4 separate regions of the Homo sapiens genome follow, and regions 2, 3 and 4 are each linked to region 1. The links come from fine-mapping of genetic effects on gene expression. A gene starts in region 1. Each other region holds a variant in brackets. All regions are shown on one strand. Distances are between the middles of the regions. Region 1 holds the start of ATP7B (ATPase copper transporting beta). Region 2 has its middle 34 kb from the start of CCDC70. Region 3 overlaps ATP7B (ATPase copper transporting beta). Region 4 has its middle 4.4 kb from the start of TMEM272.

Evidence for each region.
Region 2: its variant is fine-mapped to the expression of ATP7B in whole blood (TOPMed, PIP above 0.99).
Region 3: its variant is fine-mapped to the expression of ATP7B in tibial nerve (GTEx, PIP above 0.99). The same link has a PIP of 0.9 or more in subcutaneous fat.
Region 4: its variant is fine-mapped to the expression of ATP7B in whole blood (TOPMed, PIP above 0.99). The same link has a PIP of 0.9 or more in neutrophils.

The regions. Positions count from the first base shown.
Region 1 is chr13:52,006,743-52,014,487 of GRCh38, forward strand. It overlaps ATP7B (ATPase copper transporting beta), which reads right to left and starts at 4,708. Exons shown (of 21, transcript NM_000053.4): 1 at 4,545-4,708. The coding sequence starts at 4,595. ALG11 (ALG11 alpha-1,2-mannosyltransferase) reads left to right here and starts at 5,656. Exons shown (of 4, transcript NM_001004127.3): 1 at 5,656-5,720. The coding sequence starts at 5,677. RefSeq lists silencers at 4,915-5,254, 5,305-5,414, 5,425-5,524 and enhancers at 5,645-5,774, 5,825-5,914.
Region 2 is chr13:51,892,173-51,899,917 of GRCh38, forward strand. It overlaps a transcript of TMEM272 not described here. Among named protein-coding and RNA genes, the nearest start is that of CCDC70, 34 kb to the left of the region's middle. The variant TGAGA/T (reference allele first, on the strand shown) is at 4,158.
Region 3 is chr13:51,944,542-51,949,334 of GRCh38, forward strand. It overlaps ATP7B (ATPase copper transporting beta), which reads right to left. Exons shown (of 21, transcript NM_000053.4): 13 at 1,743-1,937. Among named protein-coding and RNA genes, the nearest start is that of ATP7B, 65 kb to the right of the region's middle. RefSeq lists enhancers at 830-899, 960-1,059. The variant C/T (reference allele first, on the strand shown) is at 1,758.
Region 4 is chr13:51,845,665-51,853,409 of GRCh38, forward strand. It overlaps a transcript of TMEM272 not described here. Among named protein-coding and RNA genes, the nearest start is that of TMEM272, 4.4 kb to the left of the region's middle. RefSeq lists an enhancer at 3,514-4,014. The variant A/G (reference allele first, on the strand shown) is at 4,168.

The DNA.
Region 1 (7,745 bases):
ATGCCTCTTTCCATTTCCAGTCCTCTGGACCTTTATACATGCTGGTCTCTGCCTTCAATGCCCTTCTCTCCATGCTCCTGTGTGCCCAATCAATGCCTGCTCTTCCTGAAAGACCCACTCGAGCACCACCTCCCACTGAAGGAATTTTTCTGCCCCTTCTGTGGGTGCTGTACCATGTAGACAGCTCTGTCCCAGCATGCATCCAGCACAGGGGCTGACCTCTCTTCATCTATGCATCCCCCTGCTTGGCCCAGTACCAGGCAAACAGAAAGTGCTCCATAATGTTTGTGGACTGAAGGCTGAATGACCAGGTCACTGCTGCCCCACAGAGAGGCCTCTGAAGAGAAAACAATGTGGAGAAATCATGTCGAGAATCCATTCATTCAAGAACAACTGTGGTGCACCTACATGTGGGAAATAGTTTTTTAAACGGTAAAAACCCGGTTCCCATTTCAAGAAGCACAGAGTTGCAAATAAAAGCTATATTCATTAAATAATCATACCAGGTGGTATGACCAAGTGTCAAGTAAGTTTTGACAATAAAAAATCGCTGAGAAAGTCAGGCAGGCCTGGCTAGGACTCAATCCTAGATCTGCCTCTTATAAGCAAGGTACATCGGGCAAGTTACTTAACTTGTGTCTGGCTCAGTTTCCCCATCTGTAAAGCAATGATGAACTCTGATCTCCTGTTCTATCACTCCCACTCCTTCCCTCTGCCACAGCCACTCTGGCTTTCCTATTGTTCCCCAAACTCTAACATCATGTCTTCTGTACTGTTTCCACTCACGACACTTCTGACACCAAATGTGTGGGGTTTTTCTTCACACCAACCAATGCTCTCTCTCCAGACACTAACTGGGTGCCCTACAATTCAATTCAATTCCGACACCAACCATCTGGAGTTAGCACGGACCCCACAGGTAAGGGCTCAGGCCCACAAGACCACAAGAATGCCCACACTTCACATGCCAGTCGCTGGGTCTGGGCCATCTGTACTCCTGACCAACTGTAAAGTCAGGAGGTTCCTACAATTACCTCCTCAGGTTGGGTAATTTGCTAGAACAGCTCGCAGAACTTAGGAAAGCACTTTATTTAATATCACCAGTTTATTATACAAAATACAGCTAAGAAACCACCACATGGAAAAGATAGGGCAAAATATGGGAATGGAGGTTTCCAGGAGCTTCCATATCCTTTCCAGGAACCACCTTCCCAGCACCTTGATGTGTTCACTAACAGGAAGCTCTCCAAAACCCATCATTTAGGGTTTTTAAGAAAGCTCTATTTGTGATCCACTGCATTGGTTAAAAAAAAAAAGGCCAGGCACAGTGGCCTCACGCCTGTAATTCCAACACTTTGGGAGGCCGAGGTGGGCGGATCACGAGATCAAGAGATAGAGATGACCCTGACCAACATGGTGAAACCCCGTCTCCACTAAAAATACAAAAATTAGCTGGGTGTGGTGGCGTGCGCCTGTAATCCCAGCTACTCAGGAGGCTGAGGCCGGAGAATCACTTGAGCCCGGGAGGCACAGGTTGCAGTGAACCGAGATCCCGCCACTGCACTCCAGCCTAGCAACAGAGTGAGACTACCTCTCAAAAAACTAAATAAATAAAAATTTAAAGAAAGCTCTATTCTGCCGGCATCACTGATTAGATCATTGTCCACTGGTGATTGGCACAATCTCCAGAGGTTGGAGCACGGGGCTGAACATTCGAATCCCCTAATCACATGGTTGGTTCTTCTGGCAATCAGTCTCCATCCTGAAGCTATCTAGGGGCCTATCAAGAGCCCTCTCATTAACAGAAACTCAGGTAGGGGTGAAAGAGACTTGTTATGAATAACAAAAGATGCTCTTATCACCATCTCTCAGGAAATTACAACGGTTTAAGAAGCTCTATGTCAGGAACTTGGGACAAGACCAAGTATATATTTCTTCTTATCACATGACTGCCGTAGGACTCTCACACTTTATGGTTTCTCAACCTAGGCTACTTCTCTGAAATCTGAATCATTCAGGTCTCTACTCAAATCCTACCTTCCAAGAGAAATCATTCCCTGACCACCTACTTAAAACAGCATCTTCCTCTCCACCCATGTCAATCCCTATCTTATTCCCTTATTCTGCTTTCTTTTCTTTTCTTTTTTTTTGAGACAGGATCTTGCTTTATCACTCAGGCTGAAGTGCAGTGGTGGGATCACAACTCACTGTAGCCTCAAACTCCTGGGCTCAAGCCATCCTCCTGCCTCAGCCTCCCGAGTAGCTGGTTCGACAGGCACACACCATTATGCCCAGCTAATTTTTCTTTTTTTTTTGTATAAACGATGTCTTGATATGCTGCCAGGCTGGTCTTGAACTCCTGGACCCAAACTGCTTTATTTTCTTCATAGTACTTACTAGTACCTGAAATAAAGCTATTGAAGGAAACTAAAACATTTCACCTCAAAACAGACTTATTGGAAATATTTTGAGATGGCCGTTCAGAGGGCCTACAGACAAAAGTAGTCCTACTGTGAGGGAGATGAGCATCTGTTGAGAACCTCCATTGACGCAGCCAGTTTTTCTCAGAGGGCCCTTCCTTGTCTGGATCTGGGTGAGATTAGCTGAATTTGGCACCTTCAAGGTCTGAAACATTTCTTCTCCCTGAGGGCTGCTACCTGTGAGGTTTCATCTACATAAGACCACCTTTGCTAGCCAGGTCTCCTCTTCTCTCCCTCCTATAACCTGATTTACAACCATAACCTGTTTTTGGCCAAGCTTAGAGCCCCCACACTTTCTGTAACCTCAGGATAGTATAATTGTGGCAACCACCTTGCCTTCCTTTGAGATCTTATGTTGTAAGACTCTCACGGCACGTTAGTAAATGTGTATGCCTTCTCTCCTATTAATCTGCCATTTGTCAGTTGATTTTTCAGTGACGCTTCACGGGGCACAAAAGTTTTCCCTTAACTCCTACGCTATACATTTGTTTATCCCTTTTTTTTTCCTATCTCCAACTAGGATGTAAATTCATGAGGGCAAGGTCTCGGTCCTACCTAAATCCCCAGTGTCTAAAACTTTGAGTACTATGTGTTTGAGCACATAGTACACACAAAAAAATTTGTTGAATAAATGTTGATAACAAGATATAATACCTACATCAAAGGGTTTTTGTGAGGATTAAACGCGAGAGTGCACATAGAGGGATATGAGTGCCTAACACAATGCCCAGCACACAGTAAGCTCAATAACGCTGGTCAACGCTATTATCAGAGGATTCCAGAAGACAGGTCAACATGGGCAGGAGCAGTTACAGAACGTTTCAAGGAGGTGGCAGGTCTTGAGCTTGATTTGGAAGGATAATGATTTCTTTCTCTAGGTGGGGACACTGTAGGAAGTTGAAATCTCCTCTGTACAAGCCACCCCTCCCAACATTTCTTCATACTCCTATCAAATGCATAGTCATCATACCCTACAAACCACCTACTAACCAGCCTCTCTCTGTCTGTCCACTAATCCGTTAGTTTTCATTTCTGTATCACCGGAGCCTAGATGAATTCACTACTAAAGGGCACCCAGCAACGTCAGTGAATTAGTTTCAGAAATCTGTGGAAAAGAAACAGCCTACTGTTCTGTCCAGCAATCCAGGCCTAAGTATCTATCCTAAAGAAATAGTGTCAGCATTAAAAATCATGTACAAAGATGTTCACTTGCAAGAGAGAGAGAAAAAAAGTAGCAAACAGAACGTCCACCACTAGGAAACCATGAATAAACTATGATGCGTCCAAACTGTGCAGAGGTTGCACTGAATTAGACAGTTAGTGAAACAATCTCTAAGATATATCGTTAAACTGAAAAAAGAGAATGCACATACAGTGATCTCATTTAGGTAAAACAAAAATTTTAACACCTCATACAAATGAAACCTAAAGATTTCTCTGAATGTGTGCATATTACATATAGATACATGTCTTGTTAACCACTGTATCAACTCAACACTGTGTGCCTGAAACATAGAAAGTTCTCAATAAATATTTGCCGAATGAAGACATATGTACGTGAATAGAAAAAGACTGAAAAATAGATCTGCTTTTTGTGCAAAATATTTCTGTGCTGTTTCCATTTTTAAAAGACTGTCTTAATGTATTACTTGTACAATTAAAATGAATTTAAAACAGTTATAAAAGTTCCAGGACCTCGATATACCATATCTGGTCCAAGCACCAGGCTCTGAGTAACTTCTCCAGGTAACTAACTTCATCGTTTTGAGCCATTAGGGCTCTAGCACAGCAACTCGACGCTCACTTTATCTCTCCAGCATCAGACCCCTTAAAAGCATAAAGATGAATTTTGAGGTGCGGGGTTTTCCATTGCTCCCAAACATCAGTTGACGGCACACTTTTTCTAAAGGGTCCTTTTCTCCCACGCCAAGACATCCCTGGAGCTGGGGTCTGGCTCGGCCTTCCCTGCGCACCCCCTGGGGGCGAGTAAGCGCCGAACGCGGGGAGGAAAATCCTCCTGGTGGGAGTGAGCACGCTGCGCGGACGCGGGGGAACAAAACTCACTTTCCGACTGGCCCCTTCTCTGGCTGTGATCTGTCTCTCCTGCTCAGGCATCGTCCCGCACGGACACCGAATTCTTCTCTGATCTGGCTCAGAGCAAAAGGTCACCTGGTCGGTGGAGGAGAGCGGGGTGTTAAAGTCCCGGGAGAGGAGGCGCAGAGTGTGAGGGCATCGGCGCGGCTCGGCTCTAAAGCAAACAGGGGTCCGGGAACCGCCCCTTCATTTGGGACCGGGGAAGCCGCAGCCCTCTTCACACGGATGATTCAAAGTTGCGCGCCGCCGTCCTCCCGACCTGGGGGCACGGGGATGAGAGCGTGAGGGGAGAGTGGGCCTCGGACCCTCGCCCACTCCCCAGGTGGCTGGGAGTGCCCACCCTGGAACTGCCGGCCCCGCCGGTGCCACAGTGTTCTCTGCCGTGCCAGTGCCACAATGTCCTCTGCCGTGCCGGCGCCGCAGGGCGGAGGCCTGTCCTCCTCCGCGGTCTCGGCCACCTCGCGCTGGTGCGCTCCGACACTGTACTGGGATCTCACGCGTGTGCGGGAGCGGGAGGGCAGGTGAGCTGCGCAGAGCCGGGCCGCAGACTCAGCTCCCAGGGCTCACCCACCGCCTGCGGGGAAGGTGCCCGGCGGCGCCGCGTCGGGTCCGCTCTGCGCTGCCCCCTCCTCGGACTCTGCGCCTGGCTGCCGGACGCCGTGGGTCCCAAAGGAAGCAACCGCGGCAAGAGTGAACTCCGCACCTGGAAAATCGATCCGCTGTGCGCAAAGGCCAGCCAATGGCCTCCAACGGGCGGCGGGCTTTGGGCCGGGAACGGGGGCGCAGGCGCCCAGGCGGGGGCTTCTAGTGGGGGAGGTGGCCGAGGGAGGGAGCGACGGCTGTCAATCACAGGCCACGCCCTCCTCAGCCCAACCCCCCACTGCTGTCCCGCCCACGGGGGCGGGAGCCGTGTGCGCCACGCCGAACACTAGTCTACGCCTCGGCATATTCTATTGGCTGGAAGGCCGTGGGAAGCGGCTACCAGTAACCAATAGTAACGCACAATTGGCCCGTGGGGGCGGGGCGAGCACGGCTTGCTTTCTCAGGAGCCAATAGGGAAAAGGAAAGTGAAGCGTTTCCTGAGTTCGGGGGTCGGCGGAAGATGGCGGCCGGCGAAAGGAGCTGGTGCCTGTGCAAGTTGTTGAGGTGAGCAGCCGGTCGTGTGGGCTCACAGACGTTTTCTCTTCTGTAGGGGTACTTGCCCGTCCAGTGTAGCTAAATTTTGCGGGCAAATGGCCTTCCTTGTCATGAATCTAAGGTAATTTCTCAGGCCAATGAGCAGTCTTTCTTTTTCTTGGGGGTCTTCTATATAGACTGGAATAGACTAGGTCTTAAAGACTCAATTTACCGCGTTTTCTTCTGCTTCACTGTTGGCCGAGGGGTCGAGTTCCCTTCCCTGCTTCAGCTTTTTTTTTCCCTTTCACACTCCAGTTAGTCTGTCATAAATTATTCATATTCATTCCTTATTTTTCTTTACGATTGAGCCACGAGACATTTTCCAATCTATCATGTCTCTTTTCGGTAAAGAAGAAACCGGATCTTCCTTCTCATCTTAGTTTCTACTCTTAAACTCACCAAAACTGCCATTGTTAACACGTCACTTAAATATAAAGCTTATGTTGAATCCTCTGCTTTTTGATAATCTGTTACTTTAATTTTTATGATGTAAGAAGTTACATAAAATATTATTTTATTTGTATTACGTGTATATGCTGTTTCTTCTAGAAAAATTAGAAAATAGATAAGTAAAAGGAAAAAACCCCAGGAATGCTACCATCCGGAGATAGCCACTGTTAACATTTTGGTGAAAAAACTCCCAGGCTTTTTTCCACCTTTGTTGTTGTAGTACTACTGTATTTTAAATGCCTTGCCCTCCACTAATAAAACAGAAGGCCTAGTATATTCTACCTACCTAGTTTTTTTACCACCTACATATTTTTGTTCAGGCTGAAAATTTATAATTAACACCATAGCTTCCTGAATAGCAGTATATACCTAATTCTTTCAAAAGTTCAGGCATTTCTTCTTCGTTTTTGTCCACTCTACTTCAAATTCTGTAATCATTACTTTAAACATTTTGAATGAGAAAGTCTGTTATCAGAGCCTTTTGGTTCTTCCCTGTCATACGTAATATTCCTCAGTGCTTTACATTATAATGTTTAAATAAACTCACTAACCAGACTTAAAGGACAGGTTTAACTTTAGTTATTATGCAGCTTTTAAGTTAAATGTTTAATAGTTCAGTTTGAAAAGCTTGTCACATGAATTTTCCCACCTAAATTATTTGAAGGAATTGCCAGAAAAACCTTTACATTATATGGGTCAGCTGCATTTTAAATAAGCTTTTGAAAGAGTGTCCTGAGAAAGCAAACTGTCCTCTGTAGTGTTGCTTTTATGAATTCATATATTCCAAATGTTAAATAAATGATAAATCTTACCACTTTTGTCAGACTCTGTTCATCCTTTAAGGCAGTGGTTCTCAAATTGTGCTCCATGGACCATGCAGGTCCCAAGGCCCTTCAATGGATCCTCAACAAATCTGTTTTTATAATAACATTAATGTAATATTTGCCTATTTTACTATGTTGATAAGTGCAAAAGTGATAGCGGATAAAACTAAGTGATAGTGGATTTTAATTAACAGTGTGAAAAGGTCATTGATAGGGTTTCAGAGTCTGTATTGCAACTGACATTAAGAAACTGCATAACTTGTCAAATGTGGTCTAGCATCAGAGAAGAATATCTGTAACTAGCTGAAAAGTTAAATATATTTTAAACATAAGATCAATATATATTAAAATATACTCCCTTTTCCTACTACATGTCTAAGTTAGCCTGAATTTTCTTCATATACTTCAACAAAAACAACATATCACTAGATTGAATGCAGAAACAGAAAGGAGGAGCCACTATCTGGTTTCACGTTAAGCCAGACATTAAAAAGATTTGCAAAAAGTGTAAATCATTGGCACCCTTCTTGCTAAATTTCTTTTTTTGGTTTGGAAAAGATAGTTTTTTAATAAAAATATGTTAATGTGTTATGAAAGAATTTTTATTTTCAAATGAATTCATAAAAAGTTTAAAGTTCTTTAGTTTTCATTTCTAATATGCTAAATATTGGTAGATATAAGCAGTGTAAACCACTGGTTCTCAACCAGGGGTGATTTTTGC
Region 2 (7,745 bases), 110 kb before region 1:
AGAGCAGGACTAGTCTCTGCCCCTCAGGGGTGGTGGGATCTGAGACTCTTGGAAGACTGGGAATCTTTTCCTGTCAACCATCAATAGATATACTGGTTTATGTTTATCGAAGCCTGGAAGTGGGAACATCTACTCCGCTGTACACAGTTTTTCATCATCATTGTCATCTCATCTCAGCCTGGAACATCTGCTGTGCCCCAAAGCATGCAGACTTGTGTGGCAGAAAAATAGGGGGCACAGGTAGGCAAGTTATCTGCTTGCTTTCAGACCCATTACCCACCTTCCCCTACTCTGCTTGGTATTGTTGGGGGATGGCTTCTGTGCCCACTTGCTTCCTGTTAGATTGAGCCAATGGAGGCATGGATGGAAGAAGAGGGAAACTTGGTAATACACCAGCTCCACCTCCCTTTCCAGTCTTTTCTTGGGCAGTGACTACATCTCTCTCTGTAGGTGACCACATTTCCTCCTTGGACCCAGCTCCATCACACAGCCTCTTCTTGGCTTCCATTTCCCATTCCCCATGATGGCCTTTCCCCCATGGTTTCAGCCATAGGGTCCTCAGGTGGCATCTCATGCAGCCCCTCCTCCACAGTTCCAGCTCACAGTTCCTGGGTCTGGTGGCTCAGTCCCCTCCCTTTGTTCCTCCGTCCTAGCAGTGGTAATGGCTTCCTGCAGTTGCTAATCTCTGGGTTGCCTCACCCTCCCCTGGTTTTATAACGTCCTTCTAACTAGCCTGCTGTATTAAATTCCGTCCACAAAACTCCCTGCCTTTCTTTACTGCACCCTGACTACAACACAAAGGTAAATGAACCTAGTAAAAGTTCTTGGCTAATTTGTTCAGCTCTTCCCATTTTCTGACAAACATCATACATCCATCCTTCATGCTCCTTGAGTTGTCTGCACACACTCCTTAAACATCCACCTGTCCTTGGCAGTAACAATGAGCTCCCTGGCAAGGACTTTGTACCAGGGCCTTCTCTCCAAGGGTTCACAGGAACAGAAGTCAAACTAAGGAGACCTTCTCAGATGGAGATTAGCTTAGTTTTCTTTCTTTGCAGTTCTCGAGTATTTGTTTAGAGGATTAGGAGAGAGCTTAAATTATATCTGTGTTTTAGCCATTTTAATTTGCCAGTATTAAATGCATCAAAAGCTCTGTCTCCCTCAGTAAAGAAGTACATGCGAAAAGCATCCCAAATTAGAAAGTCTGGGCCTTGTTTCTGTGCTGAAGTATTGTCCCTCCTTCCCTGCACCCTAATCTCAGATCCCCCTCTTCCTTTAGCTTCACCAGGACCTGCTGCTTCAGAATCACTGTGGTCCTGAGACTAATCAGGAAAAAACAGCAACAACGATGAATGTGTGTTTTTCTGGGATTCTCCCCAAAACAATGTTTACTTTAGAGGAGCTGTACAAAAATCTCTTCCCCTGGCTCACACCGTATGCGCTTCTGCTTGGCCTCTTCACATTGAGAATGTGAACATTCAAATGATCAGCATCAGCTGAAGACTCGATCACCAGGGAATGTGATCGTGCTCAGAGGAGGCCACACAGTTGCTTCTGCGTTTGGGAAAATGTTTTTTATTTAATTAATGTTATTTATTGGATAGGTGCCCAGAATTAAGGTCAGTCCTGAAAAGACTGTTTTTTAAGATGTAAAAATAATTCCAAAAGCTTGTCATCTTGTTGTGGAGAAAACAAATATAATACATGAAATCCTCAATGCAGAACTTTGTATGATTTAAATAATAACGAAGATCACAATAGTAATAAATGATGAAGACAGTAGTGCTATATGCAGAGCAAAGAAGGAAGAAGTCATCACACAGGACGGAGCCTGGAAGGCCTGAGACAGGCCAGCAAGTTTCTAATCTTCAAATTGAGACTAAATGGATACAGACACACCACACCCCCTGCATTGAAGAACTGCTTGGGGAACAAGTTTGTAGTCATCACAACTTTAGAGGTTAAAAAGTGTCAGCAACAATTCAAATCATCAAGGAGGGAGTGGGATGTATTGGGACAGATAACTGTGAAAGGACAGGGACAGAAGTGGCTGCAGGCACAACTGGATTCAGGAACTAAAGCAAAGGCATGAGTGCTCTCCAGCTCTCCACACCTCATGTGTTGGGCCTGTTCTCTCTCCCTACAGACACTCTTTCTTTGTGAGTCAGGGGACTGGGACATCAGCACAGGAAATACCAGCTTTATGCCCTCCCAGGTAATAAAAATCCAAGATAGAAGAGCCCTACATGTGGAAGTTCAGTAAAAGGACTCTGATTGGCCAGGTTTGGGTGACGTATTCACCCTTGGAGCCAATCACTGCAGCTGGGGATGAGGCGATGGTGGTTGGCTGGGGTTTTGCTGGGGAGCTAAGTTCTGTAAATCTGAAAATTACAGCTGCAGGGTGAGAAGCAGATGCCCAGTGGATGTTCAAAGGAAAGGCGCGAAAGGACTGAGAAGTTTGCAAAAGGGCAAACCCAAATGTGCAAATGGAGCCTGCAGTCGCTTAAAGCAGTGGTCCCCAACGTTTTTGGCACCAGGGACCAGTTTCGTGGAAGACAATTTTTCCATGGACCAGGCTGGGGAATGGTTTCAGGATGATTCAAGTGCATTACATTTAGTGTGCACTTGATTTCTATTATTATTACATTGTAATATATAACGGAATAATTCTACAACTCACCATGATGTAGAATTAGTGGGAGCCCTGAGCTTGTTTTCCTGCAACTAGATGGTCCCATCTGGGGGTCATGGGAGACAGTGACAGATCATCAGGTGTTAGATTCTCATAAGGAGTGGGGAAACTAGATCACTGGCATGCACAGTTCACAATAGGGTTCATGCTCCTATGAGAATCTAATGCCACTGCTGATCTGACAGGAGGTGGAGCTCAGGTGGTAATTTAAGTGATGGGGAGCAGCTGTATATACAGATGAAGCTTCGCTTGCTCACCTGCCACTCACCTCCTGCTGTGTGGCCCAGTTCCTAACAGGCCATGGACAAGTACTGGTCCATAGCCCAGGGGCTGGGGACCCCTGACTTAAAGGAAAAAGGAACTTGGGTCAGCCTGGCTGAGATGCATGTGGTATTGGGGTGGTTTGTGGGGAGCTGCAGAGAACCCATAACCAGCATAGGCTCTGATAGCATTGTCCTCTTCAGCTGCCATTGTGGGGTGGGAAACTGCCTCTGAAGATGGTTTTCTAAATATTCCTTATGGATGGGGCTCACACTCGGTAGTAACTGCAGGGAAATCGAGCCACAAGACAGTGGCTCAAGTCAGATTCTCTGTGCTTTAGGCAGGGAATGGATTCTGGCTGTCTCTTGGATAGCCCTGAAAAGAACTCTGGTGGGAAGGTGCAGAGGGGTGTTTGCTATGGGCTCCACCTGGGACATTTATCCATCTACCTGTGGGACAGGGCCTGAAGCTAGGGCTACCAAGATAGCAGACCAGGCATTTCCTCATCTTCAACCTCCTGTCCCCTCACTCCTCCCAGCTAGACCCTGACACCACTGCCTACATCCCCCCACCCTCTGCCCTGGGATGGGGGAAAAAATAAAACAGCTGAGCATGCAGCTAATGATGATATTTACAGCTACCAGTAGGGAGTGTTCCCAATGCGCCAAATGCTTAACATCCGTGATCTGACAGCCCCCCTGTGATGGTAAATATCCTCTCCACTTCTCAGATTCCAATACACAACCCCTGAGACTCAGGATGCTCTTGCCATGGTCTTTTTTCCCTTTTTAAATTTTTACAAAAATTTCCCACATAGCAACCAACGTAACCACAAGCCTCTTCTAACAGCTGCCTGACCCTCCTCCTCTTAGCCTAAACACTTCATCTCTTTTCTGTGGACAATGCCTGCTTTCAAAAGCTCTTTTCTTCAGGGAGAACAAGAGTCTGCTAAATTCTATTAGTGTTCAGCAAACCCCAGGGCCCCAGTCTCAACTTTGGCACAGGAAAGTCCAACACTCCACATCCCCTTCCTGGAGAAGCCAATCTGTGGGAAATGTAACTCTCAGCCTACAAGAAAGCTTCAGACTGACTTGTCTTTTTCTCCAGCTCCTTCTAGCTGTGCCATCGGGGACAGCTTGGTGAATATAAAAGATTTTCAAAGCCTATAACAAGCCATATAGCTCTAGAGGGGTGTGTGTGTGTA[TGAGA/T]GAGACAGAGAAACACGTGTGTGTAACACAAATGTATGTTTTTAGAATAATTATTGAAGTTTTCTTATCATTTCAGAGACTTGGTTTTAAGTGAAGGAACTATGTGAGCAGCAGCAGCATGTCCAGGAGAGGGCACCCTCTCACAGCCTGGCTAAAATGCTCAGGGCAGGTCCTGGTTCTGCAGTCACTGCCCTCTGGGGAAGGTTGTTCAAGTTGTCGGTGCACATGCCCCATGCACCCAGCCGGATGCCCTGAGAGGGGGATGCTGTGATTATCAGACAAAGCCTGTTGCGACCACCAGAGGAGGTCCATCTCTTCCCATGAGGCACCCCTGCAGCGGTCTTCTTACAGTGTCTCCAGAACCCGGCTGAGTACTTCCAACTGTGCACTGATCCTTGCCAGAAGCTTGGCCAGTTTGGTCGGCTTGGGGGTCTGACTGTTGTGAGAACAGTGGTCTCAGTTGGTCATGTGCTCAGGACAATTCAGAGAACTTAAAGAAACCCAGGTACCTGGGCTCCACTCCAGACATACTGAATCTGAATCACTGGGGTAGGACCCAGGCAGGTATGGATTTTTGAAACCCCACAGGTGATTTAGATGAGCACCTTGACAGGAGTTAGTCTGCCGCAGTTCCATGTACACCGTCAGAAGACACAAGACTCCTGAGTCAGAAACAAAGCACAGCAAGCAGCATAAACTTCATGTTCAGGTTGGTTCCCTTTGTTCTCTGGCACCACAGGGTGATGCAGAGTGGCCCAGGTGAATACAGAGCACACATTGGGTTCATCACAGCAGAGGAGCCCCAAGTTTCAGAAACCCAAATCTTTTGAAAGGCTGAAAGGACTGCAGGTAAACCTGCCCAACTTTTACACCATAGTAAGACATTGTCTTTTTTTTATTTTTTGGAGACAGGGTCTTGCTGTGGTGCCATCATGACTCACTGTAGCCCTGACCTAGGCTCAAGCAACCATCCTATCTCAGCCTCCAAAGTAGCTGGGACCACACATGCATGCCACCATGTCTGGCTAATTTTTTTTTTTTTTTTTTTTTTTTTTTTTTTTGTAGAGATGGAGTCTCATTATGTTGCCCAGGCTGATCTTGAACTCCTGGGCTCAAGTGACCTGCCTGCCTCAGACTTCCAAAGTGCTGGGATTACAGGCATGAGCCACTGTGCCTGGCCAAAATTATCTTTATTATCATACACAGTAAGAAAATCTGTCTTCCCTGGAGGGGGACTCTTATTTTTGTCTGCCAAGATGATTTCCTTTATAATCTTCTTGAAAAAAATAGTTGAAAAGATAACTAGAACAAGGCTGGGCGCAGTGGCTCATGCCTGTAGTCCCAGTACTTTGGGAGGCCGAGGTGGGTATATCACCTGAGGTCAGGAGTTGGAGACCAGCCTGGCCAACATGGTTAAACTCTGTCTCTACTGAAAATACAAAAATTAGCCAGGCATGGTGGTGCGTGCCTGTAATCCCAGCTACTCAGGAGGCTGAGGCAAGAAAATCACTTGAACCCAGGAGGCGGAGGTTGCAGTGAGCCAAGATCATGCCATTGCACTACAGCCTGGGTGACAGGGTGAGACTCCATCTCAAAAAAAAAAAAAAAGGGCTGGGCGCGGTGGCTCACGCCTGTAATTCCAGCACTTTGGGAGGCTGAGGTGGGTGGATCACAAGGTCAAGAGATTGAGACCATCCTGGCCAACATGGTGAAACCCCATCTCTACTAAAAATACAAAAATTAGCCAGGCTTGGTGGCGTGCACCTGTAGTCCCAGTTACTGGCTGAGGCAGGAGAATCGCTTGAACCTGGGAGGCAGAGGCTGCAGTAAGCAGAGACTGTGGCACTACACTCCAGTCTGGTAACAGAGCGAGACTCCATCTCAAAAATAAATAAATAAATAAATAAAATAAAATAAAAAGATAATTAGAACAAAAGTGCAGTGCCCCTGCTCATAAACATGCAGAAATACAAGAAACTCCTGGGGATTTTTCTCCTGACACACTCCTGGTTAAGAAGCACTAATGCAGGATATTGTTCTATATCTACATGCTTTTCAGTTTTCAAAGAACTAATTGAGAAATGAGCTCCTTATAATAGAGAGGATGGCTGCCTCATGGATGGAGAAATGGGCAACTGACTTATGGTGTGATGGCAGCTACCACTACATAAATATCATGCATTTTCTGAATGTTTTACAAAACAAACATCAGATTCACATTTGCAAAAGTAGGAGTAATGTAAGGGTTAAACTAAACAATATATGCAAAATGTTGGCACATACTAGATAATAAATGTTAGTTCTCTCTCCTCTTCTGCCCTTTGCCTACTTCACAGCCTATCCTGGCTGCACAAAGCCAACAAGAATGGCTTAGACTTATATCTTTTTCCTGCTAAGACGGCACTGTTGGAAGGAGTCCTTTGGGTCCTTTAAATGTGTTCCAGGAGAGGCACCCAGCATGCTAAAAAGGTAATAAAAATGACTGTGCCACCGGCAACCTGTTATCTAGGATTTCCTGATCTACCACTCACTTGATTCTACCTTGTACCTGCCTGTCATTCCTCCTCACTTTCTCTGCCTCAATCCCTGCTCCAATCTCACAGTACTAAACCTGTTCTCATCCACTGCTGATCACTGCTGGCCTTGTCAAGGCCACCTTCTAGAGACTGTCTAGACTGCATGTCTTACTCCCACAGCTCTTACTTATTAATTCATTTAGTAAGAATAATGGTAAGTAAATGAAACTATCTCTATTCACAGATGATATGATCTCTTATCTGGAAAATCCACAAAACACGCTTTCAGAACCAATGAACAAGTACAGTAAAGTTGCAGGATATGAGGTCAATATATAAAAAATCGATTGTATTTCTATATACTAGCGATGAATAATCTGAAGATGAAATCAAGGAAACAATTTACAATAGCATCTAGAAGAAAAAATACTTGAGATAAACAACATAGGTGCAAGGCTTCATAATCACACTGTATCCCATAAATATATACAGTTATTATGTGTCAATTAAAAACAGTAATAAAAGCCAGAAAAGGGTATAGCGACTGAAAGGTTTTTCCAGTGTACTTCTAATCAGCAACATTTGGCACTTGCAAAGAAAATGCAAGTCTTATACACTAAAAATTGTAAGATATCATGAAAGAAATTAAAGAAGGCCTAAATAAGTGGAAAGACATGCCATGTTCATGAATCAGAAGACTTAAGTATTAAGACGGCAATATTTCCCAAATTGATGAACAGATTCAACACTATCCTCTCAAAAATGTCATCTGGCTTCTATGTAGAAATTGACAAACTGACCCTAAAGTTAATATAAAAATGCAAGGGATCCAGAATAGCCGAAACAATCTTACAACAAAACTGGGGGACTCAAGTTTCTCTATTTCAGATCTTAATGCAAAGCTATAGTAATTAAGACCGCATGGCACTAGAAAAGGCTAGACATGTAGCTTAATGGAATAGAACTACATTTTTATTAAATTATGAATAGAAATAAATCTTTACTTTTATGGACAATTGATTTAGACAAGCCTAGGCAATCATATGGGAGATGAACAGTCTTTTCAAT
Region 3 (4,793 bases), 64 kb before region 1:
CTCAGTCGGCTGTACAGGAGATGGCACAGCACTGTCCCCCAGACAGTGACACCATCCACATACTCCCCCACATCAGGTCAGGAGTCAGGACCCTGAGGGACACCTGCCTCCCTGTCCACTGCCATCCGCCGAGCCCAACCTCAGCTTCCTTTTGCCTGCCTAAGTGCAAAAGCTACTGGGAATAGAGTCCTCACACTCTGAGTTCAAGAAAGGAAAGGACTATTCTATGGCCATAATGACAAACAAACCCCCAGAGCCAGTTTTAAGTTGGTCACACTTAGTCAATGGCAGTCTGCAGAGTCCCCACACCTCTGGGCTCAGATATGGGCAGCAGCTACATTCAGGTACCTGCACTTCCATGACCAGGGCCAGTCGAGCCCTGAGCCCTGCTTCTGAAAGTCCAGTAATTCCTGAAGTGTATAATTTTACCCATTTAAGGCCAGCAGGTTGCTCTTCTCAGACCATGTCCCACAAGCAGGGTTCTCCCTTACAAGCAAACAATAATTCAGCTTTTTGTTTCTGATGCTGAGCGGTGGCCTTCCTTCCTTCAACACACTTAACTCATCTTCCTCCAGGGATTCTTGCCAGCTTTCAGCGCAACCTTAACACTGCAGCCGGAATGATCTTCCCAACACACGATCCAGTCACATCACGTGGGTATGCCATCCCCTACGTGGCTTCTAGGCTAACGTTCAGAACACTTTACTAAATCTTCAGCCTTTGGATTCTGGCCCCTCCCTCAACGGCCTCATCTCTGGTTCCTCTCTCTCAATGATTTTCTTCCAGTTCCTCATTTGCTCATTCAACAGATAACTTCTGAATGCACTTGATGTCTCAGGTTAGATGCTGGGGATACCGCGGGGAGGGGAAGTTCCACCTCCACAGGTGCTTTCCACCTTCTGTCCCCATTTTGGAACACTCTTCCCCAGCTCCGTTGTCCAGCTCTCACTCAACAGTAAGGTCTCAGATGAACGTTCGTATTCGCTTCCCTGACCACCTGCAGCACCCTTGTCCCTGAGTCGAGCACCCCAAGTCTAGGATTGGCCCCTGTTCAAGTGTCCCCAGGACGTCAAGCACCACCAGTCAATACTCAGTATCTCGTAATACTCAGTCAGCTTTGCTATTTACTTTTTCACTGTCTGTCTTTCCCCCTGGTGGGCTCCTTGGCGGCTGGAAACCATGACCATCGCCAGAACCCAGTGCAGGGCTCACACGCAGTGAGTGCCCAGCAAATACTGATTAAATAGGTGAAAGTGTGGAAGGCCAGAGGTTAGTAAGTTGGGCAAAAGGAAGACTCTTCACAAACACCGTCACTCACTCTTCACTCCCCAGGGTCACAGGACCCACCACTAATCCCACAGATGTCACGGTGGGGCTTTTGTCCTGAAGCCTGGCTACCTGGGTGTGAATCCCAGCTCTGCCTCTGGTTAGCTGCAGGCGTTTGGTCAAGTTACCTAATCTCCTCCTGCTGCAGTTTCCTCATCTGTAAAATGGGAATGATAAGCACCTACCACACAGAGTTGTTAATGCAATTAAATCAAGTAATGTTGATAAAGCGTTCCATTATATGACTGGTGGCTACTCTGTTGCTACTGTTGTTATTCCCAGTTATACTTGACTTCCTATTCTATGTAATTAACACTGCTGTCTTGAGTGGCTCTCAGGCTTTTCTCTCAATGTGAAATAGTAAACAGATACTACTTTCATCTCTCAGGATGGGGAAAGCCGTGCTACAGGCTGACCTTGTGCGCCATCTC[C/T]AGGGGCTTGCCTCCCTTGATGAGGATGCCGTTCTGCGCGGCCACCCCGGTGCCCACCATGACAGCCGTGGGCGTGGCCAGCCCCAGGGAGCAGGGGCAGGCAATGCACAGCACCGTGATGGACGTCTGGAAAGCAAACCGGATGATCACCTCTGTCTGGGAGATGTGCTTGTTGGGGTTCTGAAAACAGGACAGAGTCAGAGGCAGGTTGAGAGTTCAATAAGGAAGCTCCCAGAACTCTAATCACATAAGGACATTTCAGGGGGGCACTGGACACAACGTGACGAACTTGGGTTCCGGAAACAGATGGTATTCCACACTGCTCTGCCATCATAGAGAACACGTTACTGCTCTCCACATCCCAGCTATCCAACTTCATCCTACAGGTTTCCCTCAAAGAGGCATTACAGGAGCAGAGTCAAATAAAAGCCCTTGATAGGGGAAAGCAGACTCTGGAGATGGACCACACAGATCCAGATCCTGGTTTCCTCATACACAAAATGGAGATGATAATGCATAGCTCATAAATTGTGGCAAGGATTGAATGAGGCAATACACATATAAACATATAAATATACACAGTACATAACACCTGGCATAGGAGCGGCATTTAAGAAACAGTAACTATTATCGTTATTTTTCTCATCATTAGGAAAGCTTAAAAATGCTATTCTAAGGTGATAATCATATAAATAAGAAAAGATGCAAGGATATTTACCACAGTGTTTTGTTTTGTTTTTGTAATGATAAAAAATGGAAACAACCAATACGGAATTGGTTAATTAAACTGTAGGTGTGATGTATATAATGGGATACGAGGCAACTATTGGAATGATGATGGAACATACTGATATGGAAAGGTACCAGCAGCACTGCAAAATTAAAAAGCAAGTACAAAATCGCATGTGCTGGGATTTATTCGTGCAAAAATCTCCGCCTGTATCTGAATACAGCATTTCAACAATACTGGAAAGGTATCCACCAATATGCAAAAAAATTACTTCTAGGGATATGATTTGGAGGTATCTTTATTTTCTTCTCTGTATTTTTCACTATTTTTTCTTTGTACCCAAAACAAACAAAATATGACCTACTTTCCAGACACTTGGTATTATTTGCATTCTGAGAGCTTGAATTATCTTGGTTTATTTTTAAAAATGGCTGGTGGCTATGGAGTATAATCAAGAGATACTATGTTCACTTACTTATAGTAAAAAGCACAGTTGTCTAAGGTAAGGCTATGGACCACAGCCTCTTTAGCTTCCATCTACATTTTATTATTTCACTCTGAAAGGCAGGATTCTAAAATAATGTATTATTAAAGGGGTCTTTTAATTTTCATAGAAACAGTTATATTTAGGTAGAGGGATATATTAAGATTTTTAGACATAAAGATTATGTAATCTTTTTTAAAAATACACTAATTCTTGTCAAAATCACACCTGGCATTCTGATAGGACTGGGTGGACTTCTGGAAGTTACCATGAGCCCTTCTCTACAATGACTTTTGTACAGCAGAGAGATGACAGTATCTTAAAGGAACATGCAGTACCTCATTTGCCAGCATCCTCCCTGATATTGCAGATAAAAACAAAAGAAGCCAAAGTAAGATGGAAAGGCATGGAACAGCAGAAAGCCACAGATTCCAACTTGTTTAGGACTGAGTCTTCCCATGGCCATATGCCAACGCACTGCTTTCCCGAAAAAGCCGAAATTATAGGCAGTCAGGTGCCATGGATAGCCACAGGCACATTCTACCAATATATCTGTAAGTTACTTTTAAGAGCACTGAGGTTCCTTAGATGTCAGAAAGTGTTTAACTTGAACATTGTTCAATTTAAGATGGGAAATTTGAGGGAGAAAATACATCCTAGTAAATGACATGTGTCCTGAGAATATTTGATATACTTTTAATTATGTGAAGGATTTTTTTTAAAAGAAAAAAATTATCCATTCTGTATTTGTACTTTTTGCTACGTTGCCCAGGTTGGAGTGCAGTGGCTATTCACAGGCACGATCATAGCACACTACAGCCTCAAACTCCTGGACTCAAATGATCCTCTGCCTTAGCCTCCCAAGTAGCTGAGTCTACAGGTGCATCACCACACCCAGTATGGTTTCTCATTCTATGGCTCTATGGTATAACAAGCACTAGACTGGGCTAGGAATAAGATAAGGTAAAAACATTGTTCCGCTCATTGTGCCATTACCAAATACTGTTCTAAGTGTGCCATTAGCTTTTTAAGTACATTATCAAGGTTTCAACCTCAGTGCTACTGACATTTGGGGCCAGATAACTCTTTGTTGTAGGGCCTGTGATGTGCCTTGCAGGATGTTTAGCAGCATCCCCCCAGTCACAAACACCGAAAATGTCACAGCTGCCAACTGAGAATCACAGATGTAATATAGCTTTTATTCCTCAAGCAGATATGTTTTTTTGAGGGGTGGCCTGTATTTTCCTTTCTTTTTCTGAGGTTTAATAAAACCATATTTCCTAAGATAGTGTTCTTCAACCACTTTTTTAAACTCAAAAATGTATATTCCATTGCCTCACATACAATGTTTAGTAAATATTTAACTATTATAAAAAGCTATTCACGCCTGGGTGCAGTGGCTCACACCTGAAATCCCAGCACTTTAGGAGGCCGAGACAGGCAGATCACCTGAGGTCAGGAGTTCGAAGCCAGCCTGACTAATACGGTGAAACCCCATCTCTGCTAAAAATACAAAAATTAGCTGGGTGTGGTGGCGTGTGCCTGTAGTCCCAGCTACTTGGGAGGCTGAGACGGGAGAACTGGTTGAACCTGGGAGGTGGAGGTTGCAGTGAACCGAGATCAAGCCACTGCACTCCAGCCCGGGAAACAGAGGGAGACTCCATCTCAAATAAATAAATAAATAAACAAACAAACATAAAAAGCTATTTACATTACTTGGGAAGCTGGGAGGTCAAAGATGGTACTGGTAAATATATACATCAAAAGATATTTTTCTTAAAATGTATTAAATAATATTATCATGCCATTGAGATTTAAAGTG
Region 4 (7,745 bases), 160 kb before region 1:
GCCTTCTTAGACCTGAAGCAGGCTGCTTTGTGAGGCTGTTGTGTGTCTGTATTGTAAGCAAGCACCTAGCAGTAGAAGTTCTCAGCTGCTGATTTATAAGAAGTGCCAGAGATTCTTTATTGAAATGCAGATTCCTGTACCACCTCCCAAAGATTCTCAATCTGTAGGTCTGGGCCTGGGCCCAGGAATCTGCAGTTTAGACTCTGCTAAGTCTCCTGTAGGTGCTCCATGGACCACACTTAGAGAAACTGGCGTCACATGACTTAAAGGCATTCTCCAACCCTGACATTCCAGGTTTTTTGTTGTCATTTCGGTGGAAAAGGCCAGTCTACTGGGGAGGGACTGGGGGAGGGACTGGTGTGAGGCAAGAGAAGAGCCTATTATGTAAAATGCAAGGAGCTGCTCCCTCTGAAGCTACCCCTGCATTGCACACCCCTGGGAGGAGGGCACCTCTCCGGGCTCACTCTAGGGCTGGCCCTGCCACTCTCCCAGTCCTGAATCCAAGGTGACCACTTCACACCACAGGACAGGGTGAAGCAGAGGAGCAAGGGGAGGAGAGCCTGCTAGAGGAAAGGACATACAGTCACAGTCATGAGCCACATAACAATGTTTCAGTCAATGATGGACCACACAGATGGTGGTTCCTTAAGATTATAATGGAACTAAAAAATTCCTATCACCTAGTGATGTCATAGCAGTCATAATGTTGTAGTGCAACACATTACTGATGTGTTTGTGGTGATGTTGGTGTAAACAAACCTACTGCACTGCCAATCACATAAAAGTAAAGTACATACAATTATGTACAGCACATGATACTTTACAGTAATAAAAAACAACGAAGTCACTGCTTTATGTATTTATACTATACTTTTTATCATTATTTTAGAGTGTACTCCTTTACTTATATATATTAAAAAAAGGTTAACTGTAAAAATGCCTCAGGCAGGTCTTTCAGGAGGTATCCAGAAGAAGGCATTGTTATCATAGGAGATGACAGCTCCTGCCTGTTATTGCCCCTGAAGAACTTCCAGTGGGACAAGATGTGGAGATGGAAGATAGTGATATTGATGATCCTGACCCTGTGTAGGCCTAGGCTAATGTAATGTATGTATAATGTATGGGCTAATGTATGAGTCAAAATTAAAAAAAATTATAAAGTAAAAAAGTTACAGTAAGCTAAGGTTACTTTATTATTAAAGAAAAATATTTTTAATAAATGTAGTGTAGCCTAAGTGTACAGTGTTTATGAAGGCTATAGTAGTGTGTAGTAATGTCTTAGGCTTTCACATTCACTAATCACTCACTCACTGACTCATCCAGAGCAACTTCCAGTCCTGCAAGCTCCATTCATGGTAAATGCCCTATACAGGTGCACCATTTTTTAATCCTTCATATCCTATTTTTACTGTACACAATGTTTAGATACACAAATACTATGTGTAGTATTTTCTACGTTTAGATACACAAATACTTACCACAGTGTTACAACTGCCTACATTATTCAATACAGTAACATGCCATGGTCTCTGGCCTTTTGGGAACAGTACTGGTCCCTAGCCTTTTAGGAACCGGGCCCCACAGCAGGAGATGAGTGGCAGGTGAGCAATCATTACCACCTGAGCTCCACTTCCTGTCAGATCAGCAACGGCATTTGATTCTCACAGGGGCACAAATCCTTCGTGAACTGTGCATGCCAGAAATCTAGGTTGCACACTCCTTATGAGAATCTAATGCCTGATGATCTGAGGTTGAACGGTTTCATGCCAAAACCTTCCCCATCCCCACCCTCATGAAACTGGTCTCCGGTGCCAAAAAGATTGGGGACCACTGGGTGTGTAGTAGGCTATACTATGTGAGTTTGTGTGAATACATTCTATGACCTTCACACAATGGCAAAATTGCCGAATGTCACATTTCTCAGAACATATACCCATGGTTCAGTGATACATGACGGTACTTGAATCTTCTCTTATCTCACACTGAGTGAGTGGAAGCAGAGTGACTGTGAGCAGTGAGGTCAGAGTCTTAAGGCTTCCCTGCCAAAGTGGTGGGGGTCTGGGAGCACACGGTGACCATAAGCCTGGCCTGGACGTGGCCAAAAAGGGGCAGCAGTCTTTTTTGAGCACATTTTAGCCCTGACATCAAAACAAACAAAATTTCAGGTGATGAGGCAGTCTTCCTGGGAGTTCAGGAAGGGAGAAAACAATGGCAGGTCACTCAGGAGCTTTTCCACATGTCCCCAAACATGCAGCAAAACATCAAAGAATATTTTTCTGCCAACAGACAACTGTACTTATGAGTACAGAAATAGGAGATTTTTGTGGGGGAGAAAGTAGGAGTCTTTGGAAAGTGATTATGAGACTCCAAAGGTAATGATAAATGATAGTAATAATAGCTCTATCAGTTAAGAAAAACGGGGAATCTGATATGGGGAATTAGTTACAAGAGCCACGGAAGAGCTGAAAAGTCATGCACGATGTCGTGGTGGAGTAACCCAGAGATTAGCAACTGACAGTGGAAGCAGTTGCTAACCCTAGAGATGTGAGTGGAAGACCACCACTGGAAATGCTGCCCAAAGCAAAGTAGGTGCGATTAATACCCCCACTTCACAGATGAGTAGCATAAGGTACAGAGATTAAAGGCATATGGCTACTAAGTGTGTAATGAACTTCAATTCAGGCCACGTGATAGAGTCCACATATGGCACCACTCCACTATTGCCATATGAATAAAGGGCACATTAGGGGAGATGATAGTAGAATTGAGTGAAAGTTGAATTCAGAGTATAAATTTTTAAATGCTTGTCTTTAGTTGAGGTGGTTCTCCTCATAAAAGTGAGTTCATTCATTCATTGAATGAATACTGCTGACTCCAAGCCAGATACTGTGAATAAAAAGATTACTTAATAAAATCCATGTATCCTATAAGGAATTTTGATGCAAAAGAGTAGTGAGTGAATGAGCACGTGCCTGAGTTTAATTACAAAGGCAACTGTGAGTTAATGAGGGTAGGCCTGACTTCTTGATGGAAGCTGTAGAAATGAAGGGAGATGCTAAAGTTGCCCAAAGACCAGGTTGTGCACCTCCAAAAGGAGCAATCAGAAAGCCAAGGGACACTGATGAGTGTTCACTCTCACTCTTCCCCAAGATTGCACAAAAGTTTGTCTTTGTCTTCGTCTTTGCTTGTGTGTTATTCCCCAACAAATTAGTTCTATGTAAACATCCTAATTCTTTTCATGCTTTCTTTGGAAGTTTTCCATTCTGATGTCACTCTTCTATTTGAGTCACCGTTTCTATATTTACCATCTATTCATCCTGACGGCTTCCTAATTTGGGAGAAAACCTTCAGGGTCCCTCACTTCGACTTCTACCTGAGTCAAAAAGCATTTCAATATAAGTTTTCATTTTCCTTTTGACTTTTCCCAGCATTTTAATTTTCCTGAGGACAATTTAAGAAAAAGAGAAACAGAATGCATGGTCCCACAACTAGTTCACAGTCAGGAAGAAGAAGAGTTAAATGACAGGCACCCCTGACCCATGCTGCAAACTTGAGGCCATTATGCTAAGAAATAAGCCAGCCACAGAAAGGCGAATGCTGTATGACTCCACTCACGTGAGGCACACAGAATAGTCATAGACATGGAAGTAGACTGGTGGTCACCAGGGGCTGGAGGAAGGGGAGCACGGGGAGCTGCTGTTTAAGGGATGTGGCATTTCAGTTTTGCAAGATGAAAAAGATTGGTTGCACAACAATGTGAATATTCTTAACACTACTGAGCTGTACATTTTTCAGTGGTTAAGATGTTGAGTTTTATGTTATGTGTATTTTAGCACAGTTTAATAAGCAAACAAACTCCTGGATCTGAGAAGCTGGGGGAGTCAAGGCCTAACATTCTAAGGGCCCTGTGGAACCGGGCAGTTGTCCAACATGCTCCAGAAAATCCCGGGGTCTCTTCAGCCCCAATTTCAGCGGTCGCAGAGGCCCTGTGGGAGGATGCGCGGACACGCCGCTGTCAGGTTTCCCGCCTCAACCCTTTTACTCAGGTCTGAAGTGGCGCCTTGGAGTGGGTGTGAGGAAAGGAATAACTCTCCTGTCTTCCTGTCCTTAACCTGGGCTCCAAGGCCGAGGGTCTAAGTTCCCAGGGGCAAGTGTCAGGGTTGGGAA[A/G]ATGCACAACGCCACCTACTGGCGCCTCTTTGCCCTCCCTCCCCATCGCTTCCTGCCGTCTGTGGTCTCTCAGTGGGACCTGGGCTGTCTCTTTCAGAAACAGGATGGACACAGTGGCTCATGCCCGTGACCGAGCACTTTAGAAGGCCAAGACAGGAGGATTGCTTGACACCAGGAGTTCGAGACCAGCTCAGGCAATGTATTGAGACTAAAAAACAAAATAAAAAATTAGCTGGGTGTAGGGGTGTGTGCCTGTAGTCCCAGCTACTTGAAATGTTCCCCTGGGGAAAGAAAAACCCTTCTGTAATTTTGTTTGAGATTGCATTAAGTTTATACACAAATTTGGGGAGAACTGGCATTCTACTGCTATTATCAACTACAATTTTACGTTGTTTCTCTCTCCCCCTCTTTATTAGGTGTTAAGCCAAATCACCTATTAAGTAATGATGATTTCCTTATAATATTTATACTTGTTTTATTTCTTTGCCTAATAAATTGGTTATTATTTACAAAACGGTGAATGCTATCCACTTCTTTATTTTAATAATGTCTTCTGGGATATTTTTAAAGAATGTAAAAACTAGACAAGGGCCCTGCCCAGTCAGAATGGAGACACCAGTCAGCTGGTACACTTACATCAATGAGCAATTATGGGCACACAGTAAGCCCTGAGTCTTTTATCATCAAGTATAATGTTTGCTGATTTATAATAAATTTAAAATAATATTTTAATTCTTATTTTACCAATAATTTTTTCTCAGGTGGGGATAGGGGGTATGCATTGCTTCTGTGATATTGTTGCTACCGGTCCATTTCAATAAACAGAGCTATACCATATCTATTTTTAAAATCATGAGTACTTTTTGATATTTAAAATTTAAATCTAATACTATACTCTTTTGTGTAATTTATTTGATTTTTATCATTGTATCCCTTTTCTTTTATACTGAAAATTTTGAATCCTAACATTATTAACGTATTTATATGCTTTGTCATACAATAGAAAGAAATGTTTCAAAGTAACAGTACAGCACTTCTACAAAAATAAAATGACCAAGTTGAAGTTTCAAATTTATTTGAAGTTCTTCTCCTCTTTAGAATATATCCCGCTAAGGAGGGTGAGTCAAAGAAGTGTGCCCTAGGATCATGTGACATAATCCTTCCTCTGTAGGGGTATGGTATATATTTGATGTATGGTTATGTTCATGTGTTCATTTCCAATTTTAAGATTTGTTTAAAAGAAGAGGTACTACAGCACTTTGGGAGGCCAAGGCAGGCAGATCCCTTGGGCCTAGGAGTTTGAGACCAGCTGGGCAACACAGCAAGACCCTGTCTCTACAAAAAGTACAAAAATTAGCTGGGTGTGGTGGCGTGCACTGATAGTCCCAGCTACTTGGGGGACTGAGGTGGGAGGATCACTTGAGCCTGAGATGTGGAAGGTGCAGTGAGCCATGATCATGTCACTGCACTCCAACCTGAACTACAGAGTGACATCTTGCCTCCTCCGTAACCAAAAAAAAAGAAGAGGAAGAAGAGGAAGAAGAGGAAGAGGAGGAGGAGGAGGAGGAAGAAGAAGAACAAGAAGAAGAAGAAGAAGAAGACGCCCTACATTTGTAGTCATTTTTTTTTTTCACTTAATAATGTATCCTGGGAATCTCTCCAAATCAGCACGAAAAGACCTTTGTTTTACCTTTTTTTTTTTTTTTTTTTTGAGACGGAGTCTTGTTCTGTTACCCAGGCTAGAGTGCAGTGGCATGTCCTCGGCTCACCACAACCTCCACCTCCTGGGTTCAAGCAATTCTCCTGCCTCAGCCTCCTGAGTAACTGGGACTACAGGCGCACGCCACCATGTCCAACTAATTTTTGTATTTTTAGTAAAGACAGGGTTTCACTATGTTGGCCAGGCTGCTCTCAAACTCCTGACCTTGTGATCTGCCTGCCTCAGCATCCCAAAGTGCTGGGATTACAGGCGTGAGCCACCGCGCCCAGCCTGTTATATATTTTTTTACAGCTGCATAGTACTTTGCTCTGTGGATGTGCCAGTTTATGTAAGTGGTTCCCTATTGCTACAAAATTGAGTTACTTCCAATCTTTTGGAATTACAAACAATACTCCGATGAATAACCTACACAAGTATCTTTCTGTAATTGTGTACATGTACCTGCTGGATAAATTTCTAGACATGGAATTGCTGGGTGAAAAGGCAAATTCACGTGTAATTTTCTTAGTTTCTGACAAATCCCCATACATGGGGGTTATAACAGTTTGTATTCCTACCAGCACTGTATAGCAGGGCCTATTTCCTTCCAACTCTGCTAACAGAGTGTATTGTCAAACTTTTGGATTTTTGCCAGTTTGATCGATGAGAAATGCAACAGTTTTCTTAATCAATTGCATTTCTCTAATTATAAGTATGGTTGAAAATTTTTTTCATATATTTAAGAGCCATTTGCATTTGTCTGCAACCAATTTGTTCATATCCTTTGGCCATTTATCTATTGGGTTGGTGGTCTTTGTCTGCTCAATTTCAGAAGCTCTTTATAAAACGGGCACTGTGGATATAGCAGTGAACATGACAAAGTCTCCTCTTTCACAAAGCCTGCTTCCAGGGCATGATTCCTTTATGGCTGGTGTGGCTAGAAACAGTTCTCTTCTTTCAATACAGAGACTGAGGCCATGAGCAGTGATGATTATGTTGTCATTGTCTTCATCTTTGAGCAATTTTCCAGTTTGATCTACTTTTCCAGGAAAATACAGTTGACCCGCGGCCGGGCGCGGTGGCTCAAGCCTGTAATCCCAGGACTTTGGGAGGCCAAGGCGGGCAGATCATGAGGTCAAGAGATCGAGACCATCCTGGCCAACATGGTGTAACCCCGTCTCTACTAAAAATACAAAAAATTAGCCGGGCGTGGTGGCGGGCTTCTGTAATCCCAGCTACTTGGGAGGCTGAGGCAGGAGAATTGCTTGAACCCAGGAGGTGAAGGATGCAGTGAGCCAAGATCGCGCCATTGCACCACTCCAGTCTGGGTAAAAAGAGCAAAACTCCGTCAAAAAAAAAAAAAAAAATACAGTTGACCCTTGAACAATGAGTGCTTAGGAGCACTGAACCTGTGCATAGTCAGAATTCCATGTGTAACTTTCAACTCCCCAAAAACTTAGCTACTAATAGCCTAATGTTGACCAGAAACAATAGCATAGTCAATTAGCATATGTTTTGTATGTTATATGTATTATATATACTGTGTTCTTACGATAAAGTAAGCTGGAGAAAAGAAAATGTTAAGAAAATCCCAGGCCAGGCGTGGTGGCTCATACCTGTAATCCCAGCACTTTGGGAGACTGAGGCAGGCAGATCACCTGAGGTCAGGAGTTTGAGACCAGCCTGGCTAACATATAGTGAAACCCCATCTCTACTAAAAAATACAAAAGTTAGCTGGGCTTCGTGGCGCATGCCAGTAGTCCCAGCTACTTGGGAAGCTGAGGCAGAAGAATCGCTTGAACCTGGGAGGCAGAGGTTGCAGTGAGCTGAGATCATGCCACTGCACTCCAGCCTGGGCAACATAGCGAGACTCCATCTC